Regions from separate parts of the Homo sapiens genome. Here region 2 is linked to region 1. The links come from fine-mapping of genetic effects on gene expression. A gene starts in region 1. The other region holds a variant in brackets. All regions are shown on one strand. Distances are between the middles of the regions. Region 1 holds the start of COBL (cordon-bleu WH2 repeat protein). Region 2 overlaps COBL (cordon-bleu WH2 repeat protein).

What was found. PIP is the estimated chance that this variant, and not a neighbour inherited with it, causes the effect.
Region 2: its variant is fine-mapped to the expression of COBL in blood mononuclear cells (TOPMed, PIP above 0.99).

What each region holds. Positions count from the first base shown.
Region 1 is chr7:51,311,016-51,323,870 of GRCh38, forward strand. It overlaps COBL (cordon-bleu WH2 repeat protein), which reads right to left and starts at 5,794. Exons shown (of 13, transcript NM_015198.5): 1 at 5,578-5,794. The coding sequence starts at 5,618. It overlaps LOC124901633 (a long non-coding RNA gene), which reads left to right and starts at 5,969. Exons shown (of 2, transcript XR_007060324.1): 1 at 5,969-6,209; 2 at 7,032-7,317. RefSeq lists enhancers at 6,052-6,645, 6,646-7,238.
Region 2 is chr7:51,135,403-51,148,257 of GRCh38, forward strand. It overlaps COBL (cordon-bleu WH2 repeat protein), which reads right to left. Exons shown (of 13, transcript NM_015198.5): 6 at 756-929. Among named protein-coding and RNA genes, the nearest start is that of COBL, 170 kb to the right of the region's middle. The variant T/C (reference allele first, on the strand shown) is at 5,854.

The DNA of each region.
Region 1 (12,855 bases):
TGTCCTTTTTACAGGCATCACTTGGTGTGGTGCAGGTGGGAACTGGATCTACAAAAGTATTTGTACAAAAGTATTTGTGGTCTGGGAATCTGTCTAACCAAATGTATCCAAGAAAAATATACTCTGGCAGTTGCTTAAAAAGCTTTTTCTCTTTTTTAATAGAAATGTTTTTAGCTGGGGGATTACTCTAATTGGACTTGGCCTATAGAAGACAATGCCCTGGCAGGGAGCAGCTCGCCACCTGATGAGGAGAGCAGAGGGAAGCGTGCTAACACCCCAAGAGGCCACAGGGTTTCTCCCTGCTGGGGAAAGCCATCCTTCTCTGGAGGGGCTGGCTCAGAAGCACAGGGATGGCCCTGAGATAGGCAGCAGAAAATACACACACTGTTGGAAACCCATTGTCTATTGTCGCACCAGAGGAGACAGCAAACTCTAGTCTAGAATAAATAGCACTAGGTCTTGAAAGTATTGACCATCCTTAGCTTTGCAAGAAGCAACTAGAATCATATAAAGTATACAAGAGGAAAAAAGTTTTAATTCTATTCCAGCAAGAGACAGATGAAAAATAAGGAATTATGGAACCCTGAAAGAAAAGTGACGTAGGCTTCCCATCAATTCAGAAGCAGAAAGCCAGGGAGTGGCCCTGAAAAATCCAGAAACACTCAAGTGACAAGGTGGAAGCGAGAAAGCAAAGTATAAAATGGGGGAGATGGAAACTAAAATTTACAACTCAAATAAATGAAAATCATAAAAGTGTAAAAAGGCATATTATCAATACATCTCTATGTAGTAATATAAACCAATAACTACAGTATTTTAAATAAAGAAAAAGTACAAAGATGAAGATATGTAAAAGCTTTCAGTGGGTCATGAAATACCAACTTTTTTTCAGCTATAGTATAAGGTAACTGAAAAAAAAAACCACACAATTAAAATTAACCAACGCATAAAACCTTCATAATTAAATGTGGATGGGGAGAGAATGAAGGAATGTACGAAAACACCATATAATAAATACAGGACCTCAGCCGGGGGCAGTGGCTCACACCTGTAATCCCAGCACTTTGGGAGGCCAAGGCGGGCGGATCACAAGGTTAGGAGTTCAAGACCAGCCTGGCCAACATGGTGAAACCTCGTCTCTATTAAAAAAAAAAAAATACAAAAATTAGCTGGGTGTGGTGGTGCACACCTGTAAATCCCAGCTACTCCGGAGGCTGAGGCAGGAGAATCGCTTGAACCGAGGAAGTGGAGGTTGCAGTGAGCTGAGATCGCACCATTGCACTCCAGCCTGGGTGACATGGTGAGATTATGTCCCCCCACCAAAAAAATAAATAAATACAGGAACTCTTAGTGTATTTACAAAGTTCAAGTCTAAATCAGAACCAAGTGTTAGCATATTTCACATTTGTATGTCCTTGATCTAAATATTAATACTACTTTGGTATCAAATATTTATGCTCACTTTTCAAAACTGCAGATCAATTACAAAATTAAATTTAATCATAAATTTATAACAAAGCACAAAAGGCCTAGAAACCTAAACTACTTATTACGGTGTATAGATGCATCCTATAATCATTGTTTTCTTAATAATTACAGGAGCACTTGCGTGGACACAGATTATGACTTCATTCCCTGGATCCCAAATTAAGAAGTCCACAGAATCCAGGCCTGCATATACGTGGGGGCTGTCGCTCTGCCTGGGTCAAGGTTCCACTCAATAATAATCCACTCCACCTGTGCACTGGAGGTCACGAGAAAACACAGGAGGGACTGCAGGCAAAAGTTCCTGGGGGCAGGAGAGATGCAACACTTAACAAATACCTTTGTAACAAATTTTAATCATACTTCAGTTCTATCCCCTTTATAGAACCACTGAGAAATAATAAAAATGCTCTGAGACTATGTGATATTGCAACACAGAAATGTCCAACTCTTCTAATTTATTAGTAAATATTTTAATTACAAAACATTAAAATTCCTAGGCCTACTCTCCACATTACATCAAGCAATTCTTAACTTTTACTTTCTTAAATGAATTGCCAAAATAAAGAGTAGCTCAGAAGTAATATCTTTTAAAAATAATGCTCAAATCTAACGGGAAAAGTTTTATGTAACAGTTCATTATACATGCTCTCATTTGAAAGAATGTAAACACTTTCTCTAACATGTTAGCCAAAAGCCAAAGGCCTAGAAACCTAAGCTTCCTATTATGGTGTAGAGTTAATATTTTCTTAATATCTGCATGCTTATGAGGGTTTCATACAAAATGTCACTGTGGCTGCCCCATGTCACTACCAAGAGTCACAGGCCTTCTACACTTAATACTATGTGCGGCACCGACAGGACTAGAGTAGCTCAAGTTACCCACTTCGATTAATTTTTTAAAATTTCTTTTGGTTCTAATAACTTGATTAAATAAATATAAATTTATGCAAAGAAATGAATAACAGCTATGTGTACATGAAGTCCACATTTTGACGAAACTGATTAGCAAAACTTCCACTGATTTTTACATGAGCAAACTGCTTGAATACAGCCATTGATCAAATGCACCAGCTGTTTTGACATTTCATGTCATTGGAGATTACTGTATTCTACAGAAACATGTCTTTCCTCCATAGGAAAAAAAAAATTAAGCATGGTCCTGCCAAACAGCAAGCCTTCTTCTGTCCTTTATTAACAGAGGGTCCAATGGGAAATTTAGCCCTGTGTTCTGTAACAGCCGACTACTGGGATGGCTCCTATAAATATTCAGACAAACGCAAAGTAAACAGATAAAGTAGAGAGTTAAATATACTTCAAAACCTCACCAAAAGGCAATTTGCCTTTACTTGTGTTCTGAGTATTCTGTCAATTCTTATACTTCAACTGAGCTCTAAAACTCCCTAAAAGTCACATCAAGTCTGACTTGTTAGTTTTTGCACACAGCCTCTTTCCTAAAAGAACACTTTCCCCAGGAGTCAAGGAAGTCATACATCACTGTTTTAATGAAATTCCTAGTAAAAAACATACAATTTCAATCCAAGTAAAAACGTATATTTGTGTTTTTCACAAAGATAACTAATAACTACCTGTTAATAATTTAGCCAGACACAGAGTCAGTGAGTTTACATTCACCAACCTATCTCCCTTCAGTAATCTTCTAGAAGAGCGTTTGTAGGCCACAGGGTGAAATCTCGTTAATTCACTGCACCCAGTCTAGCTTGTTTCTATACAACACAAGGAGGAGTGGTAGTTTCAGCAACAGCAACAGCTTCACCACATCAGTTTGTTATCATGTGGGAAGACAGAGGCTTACTGAAAGTTTGATTTTATAATAAACGGTTGCAGAATCAGATGGAAAACAAATTTCCCTCAAGCACACTGCAAACACTGCCTTAATCTCAGGGAACAGAGGAGTAATCTCAGTGAAGAGCCAACAGAATCTGCCTGCCACCAATAATGTACTAAAGCCACAAATTTCACAGCAATATCTAACCTTTATAATTAGCAAGCATACACCTAAATTATATAAAATATTCGAAGACCTAACACCATTTATCTCCTCAGATTTGAACACAAAATTGCTTATTAAACACGTAATTCTTGTCTGAAAAAATATAAGGATATTAACATTTTCTTGATGCTTCTTCACTGAAAGTATTAACAAATGACAAAGTGAGAACAATAGAAGTTAAAAATAATATGTCTACATTTCTTGGACAAAGATGTTCGGACAAGTAAATTAGACACTGGATATGAGTGAGGGAAAGAACTGAATGCATCAGGAATAATTTCATGTTTTCCATAGCAAAAATCCTTAGTTTTACTTTGCAATTCAAATATGAAAGCCAATCAGAGCTCTGGGAAGCCCTGAGAAGGCCAGCCCTCGACTACCTCTTGCCACACAGTACCAGGCTGAAAAGAGTGCCACGCTCTTAGGGTAAGTCCTTTCACTTCTATCATTAGACTCCCTTCAAGGATCTTACAGATACTCTTTGGATACAGTTTTGCCGGCCTTTTAAATGTTCTCTCTGTCTTCATATTTATTTATAAGGTGATAGTGACAAAATAATTCAGTGTCCTTAAATAGGCTCATTTAATAGGCTATGAAAGCCACAGATTTAAAGATACCTCTGTTTCACATTTCCCTGTTATTTTGGGATGCCTATTACCATGAAAAAGGATTTCCCACATTTACTTTCTTTCTGGGGAATTTGTTTGTTCAAAGAGAATTATATAACCACCAGTAAGTGCACTGCAAAAAAAAAAAAAGAGAGAGAGAAAGAAAACTTCTTTTTAACATTCCTCAGCTTCAGGATTATTTGATTTGCTAACCTGGCTCACCTTTTCCTGGCATTAAAGGAAAACTTTAAAATTTTAAAAAGAGCCCGACTGAAAGTCTTTTACACACTTGGGCAACACGCCCGCCTATGGGCACATGGGCAGGGTGAGTCAGTGGGACACAACTGTAACAGAAAAAAAGATTTGTTGTCCCCAAAGCTGCCTCCTTCAAGTCCAGTTGCCATAGCAGAAAGTGGGCCCATTCAGTAAGCAGGTGCAGGGCTCACCCCAACCCTCATTCCATTTGCAAGACTCATACACATTTGCTCCAGGCGAGCGAGCGAGTTCGAAGGTCCCCGGCGCGCCGCGCTGAAAACTACAAAGTCCACCGGGACTGCGCGCTACCCCGCGGCCCAGCCTGCACCGCTGGCCGGGATGAGCACGGCGCACCTGGCTCGGGGTCTGAATAATGAGCAGGGCTGCTCGTCCTGTTTGAGGGAAATTACTCTTTCTGAGAGTCAAATCCTGAATGTGACGTGTAATCCCTGCACGCAAGGTGTGGGGATAGCAAACAGAAACCGGGAGAGGTTTGGGCAAAAGCGGAATCGCGAAGACAGGGATGGGCCGCCAGACTCGCGGGTCCGCTACGGATGTCTGCGCCTCAGGCCTGGCCCCACTAGGACGCCCCTTCCACTGCCAGGGGAGACCCTGGAATAAAGGCAGGGAGGGAGAGCTGCTGCCATGAAACCCTCCGGGCAATCCGAACACCTTCCGAGAACGCGGGGCCCGGGCGGCTGCGAAGCCGGGGAGCCCTCCCCTCCACGCTGCCGGGAGAGCCGATCCTGGGGCTGCCGCCGAGGCCGGGAGAGGGAAGACTTGATGGGAACCGGCCAGGGGCAAGCCCGCAGGGAAGAGGCCGGAGTCAAAGGCCGGGCGTCCCCTCGCTCCCCGCTCCACCCCTACGGCAAACACTTGGGGGGCCTGAGGAAAGCTCGGAGCTGAGTGGGGGCTGTGCTGGCGGGGACCCCCATAAGGACGCCTGCATACAAACCACCCCGCGCGAAAAGTGCGCTCCGGCCCCGGCCCGACACGGTTACCTGGGCAACGACCCGGGTGCCCAAAGTACACAGCACGCACCACCACCCAACACCAGCACCCAACACCAGCACCGCACCACCTGCTCCACCACTACCACCAGCACCCGCTGGGGCGGCAGAGAGGGCGCCCTGCCCGGGAGCGCGCGGTGCGGACGCGGGCGTCCGAGCCCAGGGAAGCCCCCTCTCCACCCCGCCCGACCGCGGGGCCGCTTACCCGGTCGGGGGCTTGGCCGCCGAGGCGCGCGGCGCGTCCATGGTGCCGGGGGCCGGGACGCGGGCGGTGCTCCGGGCCCGCCGAGTCAGGCGCTGGCTACCGCCGCCACCGCTGCCGCCCTCATTCACTTTTTCCGCGCTGACCCATCGTCCTCCCACGCGGGCCGGCGGAGGACAGCGGCGGAGCGCGGCGGACGGAAGGGGCTGGAATCGTCTCTAGCGGGCGGGGGCGCCGGGAGCGCAGGGAGGGGCTGGCGGCGGCGCGGGGCGGGGGCGCCGGGAGCAAGGTGCGCCGCGCCCCCGCCCCGGCTGCTCTGCCGCGCCCACCGGAGCGCCGCCCCCGCCCCGCCCCGCCCCGCCTGCTCAGAGTCCCGACCCGGCCCGCGGCGAGCGTCCGGGGAAGGAATCCTCCGGCACCTGGGCCCTGCACCGACACCCGCGGGTGCGGCAGAGGGCTTCTCCCCGTGCTCCTCCACCCCTGGGGGGAGCGCGACCCTCTCTGGGCGGAGTGGGGGATCCCGGGGCCGGCGCCTCCTGGCGGAGTTGGGGGAGGGGAACCACCTGGAGCCTGGAGGCCGTGCGAGGGCGAGGTGGGCGGACCAGCCCGGGAGGACTGACGTTGGAGGGTGAGAAGTGAGTGTCCGGCACCGCTCTCTGACCTTTATCCGTGCAGCAAATGTCTAGTGCGTAGGGTCGCAAAGTGGGAGTCCCGACCGGGAGCGTCAGGAACACCTGGGAACTTGTTAGAAATGCAGATTTCTGGGGCCCACCAGGTCCCACGGAATCAGAAACAGTGCGGGCTGGAGCGCGGCCTCGCTTTGCTAACAACTCACTCGCTCTAGGTGAATGCTCGCTTAAGTTTGCCAACCTGATTCACTGGGCGCTACTGTGGCACAACCCTGCCACTCCAGTGCGGGCTGGCGGGCAGATATGCAGGTCCTGCCGGCCACGCCGGGGCCCAGAGCAAGTCAGCCAGAGGTCCCTTATCTGCCCAACTTCACCTCCACTCTCTAAGATCTTGGTTGGTATGATGGGCTGACCTATAAAAGTGGCAGTTTCATATGGTTTCAATGACTCGAATAAAAGACCAACAAGAGGCCAGATCGGGCGAGCCTGATAGCGTTGGGGGTGACGCTCCCCTTGCGATCTTGTCATTGGATGAGGTATCCAGAGGCCTGCGCAGCCTTCCTCCCTCTGATCCCCTGCTTTCTCATTAACTGAAGGGGGGGCAGACCAGTCTATATGCAAAATGTGAGTCCTTACTCGTGGCTGGCAGATCTTGGGTGCTCCCTGCTCCCACCTAGAAGGTTTCCTAAGTCCCCAGGTGGCCCTGGGGCTCACTTCCCTGCAGCCCAGCCTCCCATGAGTGGAGCGCTTTCCCGGCTCAGGGCCTCTGGCTGGGATGCTGCTCCACAGTGCTCTTCCTCCTCCTTTTCATCCCGTGGTCTCCCCAAGGAGCCTTTCCTGGCCTCTCTGTCTAAAAGCACCCTGCGGAGCACAGTGGCTTACACCTGTAACCTCAGCACTCAGGGAAGCCAAGGCCGGAGGAGCAGTTGAGCTCAGGAGTCGGAGACCAGCCTGTGCAACCTGGGAGAACTTTCTACAAAATAAAAAAATTAGCGGAGCATGGTGGCACACACCTGTAATCCCAGCTACGGGGCGGGGCGGCGAGTGGGGAGCAGGCTGGACAATGGAGTGAGATCCTGTCTTAAAACACAAAATAAAAGCAGCTCTCACTCAAGCTCCTGACTGCTGCCTTGTCCTAATTTTCTTCTGAGCATTTGTCACTGTATGTGTGTGTGTATGTGTGTATGTGTATATATATATGTGTGTGTGTATATGTGTATGTGTGTATATATGTGTGTGTTTATATTTAAATGTAAGTTTATAAAGAAATGTTTACATGTAATGTGTTATATTTATAGACATGTTTATATGAATGCATAAAATTTGTATTTATGTAAACTTATAAATATGTATATACATTATATATAAATGGAATAAAAAACATAAATAACATATCCTATTCCGCATATATTTTGCTCATGTGTTTGCCATTGGTCTCCTCCCTAGCATGTGATCTTAGCAAGCGCTGGGCCTTTGTCTGATTTATCACCCCCAGCATCTAGGGCAGTGCCTAGCAGGGTGGAGTCAGTGCTCAGTAAACAAAGGGTGCACTGAATGAATGAATCTCTTCTTGCACCTTGGGTGTGGGTATTAGAGAGTCTCTCCCAAAATCTGGGGAGCCCCTCCTTGCTCTGGACACCACCATGGGAAGGGCTGCCCAGGAGGGGCCAGAGCTGAAAACTAGACTAGGCACTGTGAGCCAGACCCCATTGAAATCCCTAAGGAGAAGTCCACCTCACAGGTGACACATACTCCAAGCACCTGGCAGAGGCAGCAAGAGGAAGTATGGTGGGGACATGGAGCAAAAGAAGCCCGGAGTGACCCAGTGTCTCAGATGCTGAGCACAGATGGCAACAGGAAGCCCGAAGCAGGTGGATGGTGAAGAGTAAGAGAGCTCCTCAACATCCAGAAAAACAATGAGAAGGAGGTGACGTGCCACCTCCAGGCCAAGATGCAACTTGCTGTTCTAGGAAAAAGGCCCAGGTGACCCTAGGCCTGGACAACCTCAGATCCTTGGAAGGCCCCCAGACATCTACTCAGAAACCCAACAGGGACCAGTTTCCAGAAATGAAGTGGAGGGTTAAGCCTGGTTAGAGCTGTCAGGATGAGACACAGAGTAAAGGTCAGACTTCTGCCAGAGGGAGGAGCTTCACGCTGTGACCCAGGGCCTGCAATCTAAATGGGCCAGGACTGCCGATCACTTGTGTCAACTGTGGGGAGGGGCACAGAGCCTGGGGGGGCAGGCGGGGCCTAGGACCTGATCAGATTCTGTGCATATTGCCACCCACACTTCCCTGACTGATAAGGGCCCCAAGAGATGCAACTGTGGGGAGTTGTTTTCCAAAATTGTATAGTTCAACAGATATTTCTGAGCATCTACTGTATGCCAGCCTTTGTCTGCGGTGTGGATGTGGCCACCTCATAGGGAGGGCTAGGCAAGGAAATCAGTAACAGACAGGGCTGAGCTCTTCCAGACAGACAGTGAGAAAGAGGAATAGGTGATGGGCTGAAAGCAAAGGGCTGAGTGGGGCCTTGTAGAGGATGTCACCAAGATCAGCCTACCACTTGTCACTGAGCAGAACGCACTCCTTCCTGTGCTTACTGACTTCAGCAGAGCAAATGGCACAATCACACGCTAGGGAAACTCAAAGGGAAAGGTGTTCTTTATGGACTCTTTCCTGCACATGCTTTTAAATGTCCTTATTAAAACTGTCACTTTTTTTTTTTTTTTTTTGAGAGGGAGTCGTTCTGTTGCCCAGGCTGGAGTGCGATGGCGCAATCTCGGCTCACTGCAACCTCCACCTCTCATGTTCTAGCGATTCTCCTGCCTCAGCCTCTCAAGTAGCCAGGATTACAGGCGCCTGCCACCACGCCCGGCTAATTTTTTGTATTTTTATTAGAGATGGGGTTTCACCCTGTTGGCCAGGCTGATCTCAAACTCCTGACCTCAAGTGATCTGCCCACCTCAGCCTCCCAAAGTGCTGAGATTACAGGCATGAGCAACCACACTCAGCCACTTTTTCAGATGTCGACCATCACTAAATCATCTATATTTTATAGTGTGGCAAACATCCAGGGATGTGCTGATAAATGCTTACAAATGATATTTTTAAATTTTTTTAAAAAGAGCCCCTATTTGTAGCATTTGCCAGTTTTTGTAGTGTAAACGCACCTTGGCAGATTTCAAGCTAGGGTGTTGTAAAGTCACTGAACAGGGAGTTACAGAAGATGCAGCAAGACCGCAACTCTCCATGATTTGCCTTCCCACATGCGTGAAAGCAGAACCTTTGCCCCTTCATCCACAGAGCATGGCTGAGTGCTGCTCTTTGTCCCAGGACACCATGCTTGTGTCCTGATATGGGCTGTAATGGGTGCCCTTGGCTATAGCTCTGGACTACAGTGGCATCAGCTCTTGCCCCAAGCAGTAGGAGCTACCCTGAGACCAGGGTGTAAGGCTACTTGAAGGACATTCTCTCCTTGGTCTAACCCCATCCCCCTTCTTTGCTCCTAACTCTCCTCCCAGGCACACCTGGGGTCTCAACAGCCCCCATCGGCGTACACTCAGCTCTCCATGACTCGAGGTGGGTGCCTGCAGTCACACCAGCTGCTCTTTCTGGAGGGAAAATGAAAGGAAGAAAGCACATCAAAGACACAGATGGAAGCAGTCCAGTTTAAAGCAGGGCTTCGTAAACGTGGATACTTCTTGGGATGTTATTAAGATTTAGTTCGTGATGCAGTGAGTCTGGCTGGGACCTGAGAGTCTATGTTTCTAACAAGCTCCCAGGGAAGTGGAGACTGCTGGCCCAGGGAGCACGCTTTGAGTAGCGAGGGTTTAGGGTCAAACACAGTGAGCATCTTCGGGCCTGATCTTCCACTCACTGGTGGTATTGCCGAGAGCAAATTACTTCTCTCTAGGCTTTAGTGTCCTCCTCTCTAAAATGAGAATATTCAGGGGTGGATCCAGATTTCAAAGGGCCTGAATCTTACAAAATTGTAAGGACCTTTTAAATAAATAAAGCATACCATATGATTAATGCAAATTTAGATACCAAAAGGATCTTTATTTTGAATGTGTTATGGACCGAATTGTTTCCCCTCAAAATTCATAAGTTGAATATAACTGTAATTAGAGTAGAAACTGTCACTGTAACCAGTGTAAGGGTAATTACAGATAGAAACTTAGAAAAGTGAGTAAGTTTAAGTGAGGTCATAAGGGTGGGGGGGCCCTGATCCTATAGGGCTGGTGTCTTTATTGGGAGAGGAAAAGACAACAGAGCTCTCTCTCTTTCTTCACCAACCGCAGTGGCACCTTGATCATGGACTTCCAGCCTCTAGAACTGTGAGAAAATGAATTTTTGTTGTTTAAGCCGCGCAGTCTGTGATATTTTGTTATGGCAGCCCATGCAGTCTAACACAGATTTAGAAACTAAACCATTATGGATGCAACTTTTTTTTGTTTTGTTTTGTTTTGTTTTTGAGATGGTGTCTCACTCTTTCGCCCAGGCTGGAGTGAAGTGGCATGATCTCGGCTCACTGCAACCTCCACCCACCAGGTTCAAACAATTCTCCTGTCTCAGCCTCCCGAGTAGCTGGGACTACAGGCATTCACCACCATGACAGGCTAATTTTTTTTTGTATTTTTAGTAGAGACAGGGTTTTGCCATGTTGGCCAGGCTGGTCTTGAACTCCTGACCTCAGGTGATCCACCCGCCTCAGCCTCCCAAAGTGCTAGGATTACAGCGTGAGCCACCGTGCCTGGCCAGTTGCAACTTTTCAAAGCTGACTTTACTACAACAAGTGAGCAAGTGATGGCATAACAGTAGTTCTGCCTTCCGGGGGTAAGAATAGTGCCTACTCACCAGGCCCAGGGGGAGGATTACACGGGATAAAGTGTGCAAATTTCTTGCGGTGGTACCTGACACTGGTAAGCAATCAATCCACATAACTCTTACTATTCAGACTTGTTCACTTGCTTTTGGTGCATAGTTCCCTGCACAACCATGCAGCTAGAGTCCTGGCCCCTTGAAAAGAACTTAAAGCAGAAACAAGAGCCAAACACCCGTCATTGCGCTCTGGCAGGTGTACATGTCACCTGAGCTGGGCCAAGGTGGTGCGGGGGGGCGGCTGGGGGTGCTGTTTTTGGGAATGGGAGAGTCATGCATCCAAAGTCCTCTTCTCCAGCCAGTGTGCTGCAGTACTCGAGTCAACCTCAGCTCTAGAAACCCTTCCCTCTGTTTCCTAAAACCCCCGGGAAAAATGTAAATTCTCCAGCAGAAGACACTGCTCGGCATTTTATGGAGCTGTGGCTGTGGACAAGCGAAAGAGCTTGGGTCTGTAGTGAGGAGCTGTTGAATTTAGGCCAAGGAGACCCTTGAGAAAAGGTTTGGGGCCCCACAAGTCCAGCCTTCCACTCTCCCCATTACATTCTCAAGTTTGCATTAAGGCGAGAATTGAATAACTTTCTTTTCAGGATGGTACATTATTAAACAGGACATATTTTACATGGGGTCATTAACTAACAATAGTAACTCAAAGAAATATTTATGTAGAGTGCTTTCTTTTTTTCTTTTCTTTTTTTTATTTTTTGAGACCAATTCTCACTCTTTCGCCAGGCCAGAGTGCAGTGGCGCAATCTCATCTCACTGCAACCTCTGCCTCCTGGGTTCAAGCGACTCTCCTGCCTCAGCCTCCCGAGTAGGGAGTAGCTGGGACTACAGGCGCCCGCCACTATGCCCTGCTAATTTTTTGTATTTTTAGTAGAGACGTGTTTTCACCATGTTGGCCAGGCTGGTCTCCAACTCCTGACCTCATAATTCGCTCTCCTCGGCCTCCCAAAATGCTGGGATTACAGATGTGAGCCACCGCACCCTGCCTGATTGCTTTCTTTTTATCAATATATAATTCACATACCATCAAATTCACCTCTCTCAATTCAGTGGTTTTTAGTACATAGAGTTGTGCAACCATTACCATTGTCTAATTTCAGTACATTCGCATCCCCCCAAAATAAACCCTGTGTCCATTAGCATCCACTCCCCATCCTTCCACTCCCTGAAACCACGATTTACTTTATGTCTCTATGGATTCACCTACTATGGTCATTTCATATAAATGGAATCACACAATATGTGGCCTTTTATGACTGGCTGCTTTTTCTTTTTTCTTTTCTTTTCTTTTTTTTTTTTTTTAATTGAGACAGAGTCTCGCTCTGTTGCCCAGACTGGAGTGCAGTGGCACAATCTCAGCTCACTGCAACCTCCGCCACCTGGGCTCAAGTGATTCTCCTGCCTCAGCTTCCTGAGTAGTTGGCGCTGTAGGCATCCACCACCACGCCTGGCTAATTTTTGTATTTTTGGTAGAGATGGGGTTTTGCCATGTTGGCCAGGCTGGTCATGAAGTCCTGACCTCAGGTGATCCACCCACCTCGGCCTCCCAAAATGCTGGGATTACAGGCATGAGCCACCGTGCCAGGCCTATTAATAGTTAATTTTTAAGGACCACTTCCTAGATGTGATGCACTATACTAAACTCATTAATAACTCTAATCATTGTGTGTATATATATAAATATACATACAAAAAAATTTTTTTTGAGACGGGGTCTCACTCTGTCACCAGGCTGGAGTGCAGTGGCGCAATCTCAGCTCACTGCA
Region 2 (12,855 bases), 180 kb before region 1:
CAACCATGAAGGAACAGAGATGGATGACCAGAGGACCGACTTGCAAAAATAGATGGACAGACGGACATACCTGGACAGAACGACAAGCAGGCTGATAAGGAAATTACATGACATGTCAGGACCCCGCCATTTGGTATCTGCTGCTATAACTTTTTATCAAGATCCAGGGACCAAGCCTCACATTCAGGAGGCACAGACTTAGTTTTTAGGGTATTTTGAGAGCAAATGAGCAAAAAGGGGCTTTGAACCTAAAGACTAGCAGGGGCGTGACACTCTCAAACTATGCAACTGGGCTAGGCCACATGACACATGCGGCAAGAGTTAGGAAATAAAGTTCTGCCACAGAATGAATGGACTCTGAATTTGCTTTCTGTAAATGTTGGCATTTGTGGCATGCTGCCTCCACAGGAAGCTGGGATGCAGTCAGTCAGAAAAATCTCAGTCCAGGGAAGAAGACTGCATCCTTATCTTTACAGCTGCATGGTGGATCTGACATATTAGGGTATGTGGGGAGCAGGACTGGGCTGCTGGGTGTATCCTGACTGCCTTGGGGAACTCAGCTTCTCAGAGTTAAAATCATGAGCCCTTCCTGGCATCTTGCCTTTACTTTTAAATAAAGCTTAAATACTTGCCCCCAACACTCCAGTCGCTACAGCCACAAACATGAAGGATTACTGTGTTCCCAGGGAGCTTTGGAACAATCAACTGTGTCACTGAAAAGATGCTTTGGTTGTGAGAACAGCCCACTGCCCTACCTTTTCCGATGCCTTGTCTTGCACAGGTGGCCCTGAACCTGGAGGAGGAGGGGCTCGGCGCTTCTTCATCTCCGACTTCACGGACACCCCTGAGATGCTGCCCAGCGAGAGGGATGGACCCAGCGTAAGAGAACGTGAGTGCATGGATGGGGAGTTGGGGGTCGTTAAACAGCCCTGTTGGGGAAGAGACAAACAGAAAACCAAATCAGTATGAGATGACTTCTCCCCGTATGAATGCTCACATGAAGACAAAGTTCCAATCCGTCCACCTGAGCTTGAACGGCAGCTGTTTCTACAGTCAGCTTGAATGGTCTGAGCAAGCCCTGCCTGTAGCTTTCCAGGGAAAACTGGAGAAGATGCTGCAGGACAGACTCATGCTGTGAGGCTCCCTTTCTTAATCATGAAGGCCATGGCAGACTCTTTAAGCCATTAAGAGAACACTTAGCAGCTAGAATCATTTAAACTTCTTGACCAACCTGCAGGTGTGAACTGGCCTCCTTAAAACTTTAACCCATTGTCAGAATGAGCTCTTAGACACTAAAAAGAGGAAGGAACTGATCAAGAAATACATCTTCATGAGGAAGACACCAACAGTCTTGGTCATCTTGGGAAGTACTCCACTTGTTGCCAGGAGGGGGCTTATGTTTCTTCTAATTTTCAGAAGTTATGAAAACTGACAATGTGGTATAAGCAGTATGCTGTGAAGACTGTCTAGGACCATCAGTACCGTACTTAGTGACAGATACCCAATAAGCTGAAAGAAATACAAGCCAACACACTAATTGCTCTCAAGGGACAATTTCTACACCAGGCGGAGCAGGCTACAGGACACACAAACTTTTTGAATCTTTTTTCTCCCTAAGGTCTGCTTAATAGAATCATGTAAGTGCTAGTGCAGAAAGCATTCGGGGAACCAGCAGAACCAGCACTCTAACTTCAAACTGAAAACAAGATGGTACCATGCTGTGTCCTGGTGCCTCTTCTCTCCTAGCCCTGGCAGATCTTCCACCTGTTACCATGGACACAGTCAACACTGAGAGCCAATGCAGTATAGGGGTTAAGCCCACAGACCTTGGAGACACTACCTGGGTTTGATTCCTTCTTTTGACCTTAGACGAGGTATTTTTTGGTGTCAGGAGTAAGATACAAACCTTGGGCAAATTTTTAATTTCTCCCTACCCCAGTTTATCTCCTGTAAAACTGGGGTAAATAATAGTTCCTGCATTACAAAGCTATCATGTGAATCAAATGAGTGACTGGATGTAAAAGAGCTTGAAAGAGTTCTTGGCACATTGGCTGGGTGTGGTCATGCTCACCTTTAGTGCTAGCTACTTGGGATGCTAAGGTGGGAGGATCTCTTGAGCCTGAGTTTGAGGCTGTAGTGAGCCATGCTGGTGTCATTGGAAGACAGAGTGAGATCCCACTTCTTTAAAAAAAAAAAAAGGAGTTCTTGGCACAAAGTAAGTACCCAATATGTGTTAGCTATTATGATTATTACACTTGCTTGTTTGTATCTTTGTCTCCCATTAAGATGTGAACTCAATGAAGACAGTAATTATCACTGATTTTTACTGAGAACTGTATGTAATCCCAGCTCCAAACAGTTCCTGGTAGGTGGAGGGCCCTTCAGTCAACCTTCCTGAGACAATGAATAGACAGATGACCCTCTGGGTCACTATGCTTTCATATTTTACATAATAAGCTTGTGGGTAAGATTTCATTTGAACAACTAGTTCTCCATATTTAAAATGAAGATATAAAGGAAATCCATCATATTAAACAATAGCCCAGTATTATTTGTGCTCAGACACAAATGCTGTTGCTCTACCAGTTATACTATCATTTGTTTTCCTGAAAAAAAATTGAGTCACAGATTTTCTTGTGCTTAAATATTAAAGCCAAAGGACAAAGCACTCCATGAAGGCTGCTTTTTACGCCATTAGTGCTTCCCTGCAGACACTGAATATCAACGATGCCCGATGCTTTGGCTATCAGGTGCAGAGTTCCCATAGGAAACAGGTGACGGTGATATAACAGAAAAGAAACTAACACCCAGAACACTCGTCAATGCCTATTTAGGCTCCTACAGAAAAATGTAAATTGTTCCCTTGAGTCCTTGAGTTCTGCAGCCATCATAGTCATTACTAAGCAAATAAGCCATGCAAAATAAACTCTGCCTTACATCCACCTCCATGGCAACAGGGAGGACTCAGGGAGATGCAACTCAAGATTTATTTAACCCTGCAGGATCTAGAAGACTAAATGAAGCACAGGAAGCAAACCAGAGAAGGGATTTTGCTATTCACAGTTCTGGAGCTGGAAAGGTGTTTTGCTGGATGGCTGGTTTGTACAAACACCCCCAGATCCAGGGGGAATGCAAACCCCATCTTTCCTCATCAGTAGTCACTTAGCATATGGCCAGAGCATGGACACTGGGACCTTCCACACTGTTCTGTTTCCTCATCCATAACGTCTGCTGACAGTGACTGCACATGCACACACTCACGCACATGTGCACACACTCACAAACGTGCACTCACACATGTGAACACACATTTTGGAGGATGCTTAAAGCTGTGGTAGTCAAAGAACTACACACCTGTACCCATGCCACCTGCTATCTCTAAAGCACACATGCCCCATCTGACGTCCCAGAAACACGATGTCCATGGCAGTGCATTCCACAACCACATATCTAATTGCTTGTCTTCATTCCACCCTGTCTAGACATGGAACTCCCAGTTCCTCTTGTCCTCGGTCCTCACCACAACTATGCCTGCCTGACTGATCAATCAATACTGCTGTGAATCCACCTCTGTCCTGTAAGTGCCCTGAGCACTTAAGGAAGGTCTGTGCAGAATACTCCCTTAAAAGAACTTTACAGCCCCCTTCCATTTCATATTGATTTCAGGTTTTAATTCATAATTTTTTTTGCTGTCATAAGCATCCTGGACATTTTGCATTATCTATTTTTTAAGGTAAGGAATGGGAATAGACCCCATAAAGTAGGTACATCCCCATCTTTAAAATGGGGAAAAATCCATTTCCTTCAAAGTTGTTACAAGCATTAAATGAAGTAATTTAGATAAAGCACATTAGAAGTGTCTAATATATGTGGTTTCCTTCTTCTCTGATACCTATTTTGGGTGGCCATGACCTCATGAGGGCCACACTGAGATGACCTTGAATGGCAGAAAGTCAGAAGGCGGAAGTGCACCCCATCCCAGTCCTCCTAGAAGTTCTGATATTGATTATCTTCAGACAATGGGCTCCTCATGAGGCCTTCATCTGTGACTCTGGAACTTAACTGAATTTCAATAGAACAGATGATTTTTCTCCCCTAATTTGCTCTACACAATTAACAAATATCTCTTCCCACCTCCCACAATGCTCCCAAGGAGGTCGATTGCAGGGTCCAGTGGTCCTGAGCCACCAGACCCTCTTCTCAGTTCTGCTACTCAACAGTGTTTCTCAACCTTCAACCCATGGGAAGCCAAAAACTTTATGTTGTCCAGCGAATACTTGTGCTTCATTTCTATCTTCTTTCCCTACTTTTGGAATTTGTGCGCAGAATTTAGAAAGCAATCCACAGAATAATGTGGGAGGAAAACATTGTGAAGTATTGAGTCCTTTAAAGTCCTGACTCATATCAATACGAAGTCAAAGGGAAAACCAAGAGCTTAATGCATGCAGTCTGGAGTCAAAACAGCTTGGCCCCCCCTATTATCCCAGTTTCCTTGGTTGTCTCCTGCTACAAAGTGGCAAAGTTCATGAGGGACAGGCCACTGCTTGCCTGCAAGAGAGGTTTGATTTCCTGTCCAAGCTTGTCAATATATACATGTTTTTAATATCAAGTTCTTTTTTTGTAGGGAAGTGAGTCATAGCTCTCACCAAAGGTTGGCACCAAAATCCACAGATGTTGGCAGTCATGATCTTATCAAATTTTCTCAGGAGTTGCAAGTGCAACCAGATAAATCATTAAGAAAAAGCAATGAATAACAGAAAAGAAAACTAAGCAAACAGAACCTTCTATCTCAGGCTTCATGGGACTTAGGTTGGTGGGATTTAAACTTCCTCCAGGCCAGCTGCTGTCATTCAATGGATAGTCGAATTCAATGGCGCCCACCAAAGACAATGCAAAACTCTCTGTGTCCATGTCACCACACCACTGATAGCCAATTAACTCCTTACATTCAGTGTAAAACATCAGTGATTTGACTCTCATACGCGCATCTGGGGAGAGAAGACAGGAAGAAGAGGAAGCTAACCGTTTCCAGATCTGAGTGCCAGCTCAAAATAAAACCAGTATCATCTGCCACAAGTGCTTTTGACATGGGTCCTAATTTTAAATTTACACACACACAAACATTTATGTATGCATGGGTGTGTGTGTGCGTATATATATATGTACATATTTGATTGCTTCTGTTTAAAATGTACTCATCTCAGCAAAGCTTATTTTCCTTTTATTTGACTTTCATTGTGACGACAAAACACTACTCCACTGACAGGGACAAGGAGCTATGCAGATCTAGCACCAGGCAGCAGGGGCACGGCCCTGACAGCACAAGTGCCCCATAGAACCTGATAGGGCACTGAGAGTGCAGGGTGTTCCTGGAATACTTTCAGGGCTCACAGGTACCGCAGAGAACACGTTGTCTCCCTCGCTCATTGACTTATAATTGATCAGAGATCAGTACCAGACAAGAAGCTGAGCATGTTCAACGTAAACATCCCTATTTCGAGTCAGCACAGACTGCCATGGTCCATTTCCCTTTGCCAAAATTCTTGAAGATATCCTCACAGAGCTGCCTCACGAGCACACCCATCACACAGCCTAAGATGGATCAATCTGTTCATACAACAAAAAGGGGCTTGGTGTACTTCAACCCCTTACTGTACTGCACAATACACTTCCAGGGACAAACAGGAGATGCTGTACCTGAAATCTTTCTGTTTAAATCGATTTAAAAAAAAAAAAAGAGAAATGGTCATTTTGTTTCCATTTCTCAAAGGTGTCCATCCTACAAATACAATTATACCTTGACTCATTTAATCAAGTCTACTAAAAGCCTGAGTAGATCTTTTGACATGGCTA[T/C]TGAGGAATTCAGATGTTGATTTCTGTTTCAAGGTTAAGGGATATGTTTTGGTTACAATAAGTATACTCTGAGCTGGCAATCAACAATCCTCTCAGCAGAGGCTCTTCTAAATGGGATCAGATCCTCTTAGAAGGACATGATGTTTGCTGTTTTGATGGTGAGAAAAACTGAGGCCCAGACAGAGCTACTCAAGATGGCTCTGTGCCCTAGTGATATAATAAATTAGAAAAACTGAGGCCCAGACAGAGCTACTCAGGATGGCTCAGCTCCCTAGTGATAGAATAAACTAGAAAGATGAAACTAGAAATATGTTCCTGTTGCTGCCTGCAGCCTCCTCTCCTTAGACGATGCTGCCCCCTTTTGAAAGGCTTTACAACTTTTTTTTTTTTTTTTAAGGCTTTGTTAAAGAATCGAGTGGGAGGGAAGATTCCAGAACCTGTTATCCACACTGGCTTTTCTTCAGATACAGGTGTTGACAGGACTCAAGGCAGAACAATGTGACATAAACCAGATGAGGCGAACGGGCACTCCCTGGGGTCTGTTGGGCAGAGCAGCTCAGGTCTGTCAAAGCTCCTGGTGAGGTGAGAATGGGGAGAATGCTGCTTCTCATCTGTGGTGGCTGGCACAGTCTTGGGTAAGGGCAAGGCCAACTTTCCTTCCCAAGAGGGTGTTCTCTGTCTTTGTCTTTGCATTTCCTTATCCTCAGGGCACAGCCTTCCTGACAGACACTCCTTAAGCTGAATCCCTGAGCCAAATCCTGAGCTGTCTTCTGGCATCCTGGAAATCCTGCACTGATTCCGAGGAAGCGGCAAAGAAAGAACCATGAAGCATGCCAGCTTCATGTGAACTGATCACCATGAATGGGCAGGACAATGGAACTTAGGAATCTCATTTCTAGAGGGTGAGGCGAGTAGGAAATGATCGCTCTTTTTTGGCCAAGTACCCCATGGAATGCCTGGGGGATGGCATTTTAAGTATTTAGAAGAAGAAAAGTGGCAGAAGCTATTTGGTCTGGATGCATACTTCAGCCAACAAAATACCGTGTCACACAAGCTCTCTGATGGTTTCTCGCCTGGCAAGACATTTTCTTAAAATGAGCAAACAAAGAGTATCCAACTGGTATTTGATTTTTTTTTTTTTTTTTTTTTTTTGAGACAGAATCTGTCACCCAGGCCGGAGTGCAATGGTGTGGTCTGGGCTCACTGCAACCTCTGCCTCCCTGGTTCAAGGGATTCTCCTGCCTCAGCCTCCTGAGTAACTGGGATTACAGGAGCGTGCCACCACGCCCGGCTAATTTTTGTATTTTTACTAGAGACAGGGTTTTGCCATCTTGGAAAGGCTGGTCTCGAACTGCTGAACTCAAGTGATCCACCCGCCTTGGCCTCCCAAAGTGCTGGGATTGCAGGCATGAGCTACAGCGCCCGAGCTGGTATTTTATTTTCCCTTAACATAACTGGAAGACATGATTGAAGGTGAGCTATCAGACAGTATTTCAGTCTTATGAAGCAGGACCATCTGCCAGGCATTTGAATGTTTAGAATGCTTAACAATGACAATTTCAGAAAGGCAGAAGTTTCTGAAAAGCTTGTAAATTAAAAGGAAATGAGCCCCGGGGTGCTTCAAAGATGGATGACATGCGATGTGTGTCCTCAGGCAGGCAGGATCCTGTGACAGTGGCCACAGCAGACCGCAGAAGCTCATTTCCAGCCAAGCCAGGGGGAGGGAGAGATGCAGTGCATGGTGCAAACTTCATCAGGGCAGGTGGAGGAGGAAAAGTAAGAGGAAGGGCATCAAAGGGGAAGGATAAGGCAAGAGAATGTTATGAAAAGTTAAGTCATAATGTGCAGCATAGTGACTGACCAGAATTAAAAAGCAAGGAGTGGGGGCTTGGCAGCAGCAGAGAAGAGCATCAGGGAAAGGATGTTCACAGGGCATGCCTCAATCTGCATGCGTGTGTGTGTGTCTGTGTGACTGCTTGCGGTCAGATGCGAGATTTCAGCTGAGGCAAACTCAATTAGATACAGTTTCAGGGAAAAATGAGGTTCCAACTTATAAAAATAATACAATCCTAATGAAAAAGGGAAGGTTTTTCCCTCTCAAATGCACATGTAAAATTTGCCATAATTTATGTGGTGACACATTTTGAATAACTGACTTATAAGTTCAGTTTTCTATACTTCATCAAGAGTGATACTTTATGTGTAGCCCTCCTCCAGATAAATGGATTTCTCCAAACGAAACCAAGTATTTCGTGTTAAGTGGGCATTCTGTTAATGAGCATTTTAATAATACCATGGACTAGATCAGGAAAGGAATGAGAAACTCGGCTGTAGATGTGCATGGGGCAGGTCTGGGTGCCGACTGAAAGGGCACCACTACAGGACACAGAAACAAAACAAAAAAGGGAACAATTCCTGTGCAATAAATATGATTGTTTCTAAAACGTGTACCAAATCAGGAAGGCTTCCCTGTAACTCCAGGTAACTGAGTCATGAGTGGAGGAAAAAAGCTGATCAGATTTCTTCCTTGGCAAAACTTCTTTTCAAGAAAAGTAGGATTTATTTTTTAAGAAGCAGGAAAAGTAGCTGTGTGGTTCAAGAGCCTCTCTTCTGGGGGAGCAGACTAATTCTCTGATGCACTGTTTATAATGTTGCCCTCTCTAATCTTCTAAGGGACTTACCATTCATCACTACCTATATGTAGCATGCTATAGAAGAGGGTTAAGAGGGTGGCCACATAATTTATTATCCAAAATAGAACTATTTTTCAAGTGATCTAAAGTAAGCCTAATGGGAAAGAATGCAGTGACATCAGCATTGCTGGGACTGTCCCAGGCTAGCAGAAGTGTGGTCTCTCCACCTGGGCGGCATGTGAGCTGACACCTGCCAGGTGCAAAGAGAACAACTAAGCCGGTTAGGGAGGAAATCTAAACTCCAGGCTCAGAAAATGGTGATAGATTCGTGTGCAGACATGTATTTTACATATATGAACCCACTTGACCCTCATACCAGCTCTATAGGAAGGTAATTACATGGTCCTCATTTCACAGCTAAGGAAACTCAGGTACAGCGAGTTACTGGTTGCCCAAGGTCACACACTAGGAAGTGGTGGAGCCAGACAGGCTGGCTCTGGGGCAGAGGTTCGAAAACTCAGCTGCACGGAACTCCCTGGAGCTTTAATGATGCACACACCCAGGCTGCACACCAATCCAAGCATATCCGAAACCCCGGAGCCAGATCAAGCATTGGCTGTTTTCCTTTTTTAAATTATGATAACAAAATGTGTGTAATAACATAAAATTAACCGTGTTAGCCATTTTAAAGCATACAATCCGTGGTGTTAAGTACATTGACACTATCATCCAGACATCACCACTATCTAGTTTCAGAATGTTTTCATCATCCCAAAAGGAGACCTTGTACCCATTAAGCAGACACTCCCCAATCCCCTTTCCCCACCCCAGTCCTGGACAAACCCCAGTTTGCTTTTAGACTCTATGGATTTACCTGTTCCATATGTTTCATATAAATGAAATCAAACAATATATGATCTTTGTGTTTGGCTTTCACTTAGCATAATGTTTTGAAGGTTTGCTCACATTGCAGCATGCATCAGTATTTCATTCCTTGTTAAGGCCGAATGTTTGATGTATATACCACATTCTTATCCACTCATCTGTTCATGGGCATTAGAATTGTTTCTACTTTTTGGCTACTGTGAACAGAGCTGCTACAAGCATTTGTGTACTATTCACTTGTTTTTAATTCTTTTTTTCTAGACAGAGTCTTGCTCTTGTCGCCCAGGCTGGAGTGCAGTGGTGCGATCTCAGCTTACTGAAACCTCTGCCTCCCAGGTTCAAGCGATTCTCCTGCCTCAGCCTCCTGAGTAGCTGGGATTATAGGTGCCCACCATCACGCCCAACTAATTTTTTGTATTTTCAGTAGAGACAGGGTTTCACCATGTTGGCCAGGCTGGTCTTGAACTCTTGACCTCAAGTGATCAGCCCGCCTCAGCCTCCCAAAGTGCTGGGATCATAGGTGTGAGCCACCATGCCCGGCCTGTTTTTAATTCTTTTGGGTATATTCCTAGGAGAATTGTGGCTCATATGTTATTCCTTTTCTTTTTTTTTTCTTTTTTTTCCGAGATGGAGTGTCACTCCTGTCGCCCAGGCTGGAGTGCAGTGGCACGAACTCAGTTCACTGCAACCTCTACCTCCCGGGTTCAAGCTTCTCCTGCCTCCGCTTCCTGAGTAGCTGGGATTACAGGTACCCGCCACCATGCCCAGCTAATTTTTGTGCTTTTAGTAGAGATGGGGTTTCGCCATGTTGGCTAGGCTGGTGTCAAACTCCTGACCTCAGGTGATCTGCCCACCTCGGCCTCCCAAAGTGCTGGGATAACAGGAGTGAGCCGCCACACCTGGCCTGTTATTCCTCTGTTTAACTTACTGAGGAACAGCCAAAGTGCTTTCCACAGTGGCTGTACCATTTTACATTCTCACCAGCAATGAACAAGGGTTCCAGTTTATCCACGTCCTGGCCAACATTTGTTTTCCTTTTGTTTGAACAGCCGTCTTTCGTGTGTGTGAAGCGGTGTCTCACTATGGTTTTGAACTGCACTTCCCCCACTACTAATGAGGTGGAGGCATCTTTCCGTTTGTTTACTCCCACTAGGCATCTGTGTTTGGGAATCAAGAGTGGGCCCCACCGCTCTCACCTTTGCTCCTGACCATCACAGCACACTGCCCAGGCTGGAGGTGGCTCATTTTTATTCTCTCTTAAGGAACAGTGCCTTAGAGCATCAGCCATCAATATTTTTACTGGCCCCAAGCCCCATGATTTCATATGCATGGGTTTCACATGCAAGGTGCCAGCCTCTGAGCAGCATCTGTGCAAGAGCTGCAACTCCATCCTTCTGTCTTCTTCAAAAAGTGTATCAGAGAGGGAATAATCATGTTTTCCAGGTGAAACTGAATGGCTTTTGTCTGTTTAAGTAAATCACTCACAAATTTGGGTACTCTATTATTAATTAACAAATAATTAATCAGCCCCTCCTTGGGGCTCCCTTGCCACCTCCTTTTAGAATTGCTGCAAAGCATAACGGCTGGTCAAGTGCACATCCCCATGACTGCAGGGAGGGGCTGCCAGGCATACTCATCTCAAGGTCACCCATGAAGTTCACCTTCAAAGCGATCGGCAGTTTCCTTGAGGTTCTCTTGGCAATCTTGTCATTTAACCTCAGTCCTTTCCTATTTTCTAGCATGACCTGTGGGACTCAGATTCTGTAGCGCTTCTGCCATGCCCCACTCCGTTCTCCCATTAAGATATTATCTCTTGTTGGAAATAAAAAGAGGAGACAGAGGAAGGTGACCGCTGTGGAGCTGCTAGTGCAGGAATGTGGGGGCGGGGGGAGGGGGGCAATAGCCCAGATTTCTAGGAAGCTGGGAGAGTTAGAAATAAGGCCTGATGAAGAGCTGTGCATTTTCTCATATAAAGGCAGGTGGTGCAGAGGGGGAGTCGCAAGGAATACGGGATATTCCCTCACTTCTTTCCAACTCAAGATGAGCAGGTCAGAGCAGTCAGGAGGAAAACCCAAGACCTACAAAAGTTACTTAATAGGAGGGCTGTGATCCATTGGGAAGTTGGAGAGCAGATACGGCTGCTGATCCCCTGGCAGCCCCAGGAGGGGTGTGACATTCTCAGCTCCCCACCTTGGGCATGGTGATGGGGAGCCAGCAGGGGGTTGCTCATTAACCTGCAGGAAGTGTTCTGCAGGCCAGGGTCCCTGCATAGGGACAGCAGAAGGCACTGCAGAGGGGAGGGGAATGGCTTTCCTCTCAGAATCCAGTCAGGACTCCGCAGCCCTGGGGCAGCTGTGACCTCCAAGCTGTGTCAGCCCTGGACTTGCATGTGGCTGGGTGTGGCCTTCCCTCTCTAGAGAACAGCTGGGAGCCAGCGCACTGAGAACCTGCCCATGGCCATCCACTAAGCCCTTCCTTGTCCTAGCTCACAAAAAGGTCCCTCAGCCTTGTATGGGTCACATTTGTTAGAAATGCTTGTTACTTGGTGCTGTAAAGAAATAGCACTTGAACATAAATTTAATTTTCTCAGCAAGGTCATTTTTACTTTCTGCAGAAAGGGTACACTCACCAGCAGTTTTGCCAGGAGAGTACACCGAACAAAGGAGACAGGGTCATTTATAACCTGACGCGTTCACCTTACTGCTGTATCTGGTTTCCACTGGCCAGAACAGGACCTCGCTTTCTGTATTTGTCCTGATTGGCTAGCAACTTAGAACTTTTTAAAAGAGCAAAGGTAGAGGAGAACAAAGGGAGGAGGAAGTAACTTGTGGAATGCTGAGAAAGGTGAAAACACCTCCAAATAAGGAAGAGGAATAGGCTATGACCTAACGCCCGCTTGGACTAGTATAAGCATGCCAGGGCAAATATTTAGGCGAAATTGCGGGACCTAAGAACATAAAGTACGTTGATTTTTCTTTTCTTTTTTTTTTTTTTTGATACAGAGTCTCACTCTGTCATCCAGGCTGGAGTGCAGTGGCGCGATCTCGGCTCACTGCAAGCTCCGCCTCCCAGGTTCACACTAGTCTCCTGCCTCAGCCTCCCAAGTAGCTGGGAATACAGGCACCCGCCACCACACCCAGCTAAGTTTTTTGCATTTTTATTTTATTTTTAGTATAGACGGGGTTTTACCGTGTTAGCCAGGATGGTCACGATCTCCGGATCTCGTGATCCGCCCACCTTGGCCTCCGAAAGTGCTGGGATTACAGGTGTGAGCCACCACACCCAGCCACATTGATTTATTACGGCTAGCAGATATTTAAGAATGTTAGCACAGGTCTTTGAATAAATATTGCTTCTAAGAGAAGTTACTATTTATTCCTAATTAGACGGAGAGGAGAGTCTCTTTGAAGAGGAACCTCTATTTTACTATTTACACGTTTGTGCACAGGGCAGGTGGGAGGCAGCCAGAGTGACTGGGGGGTGG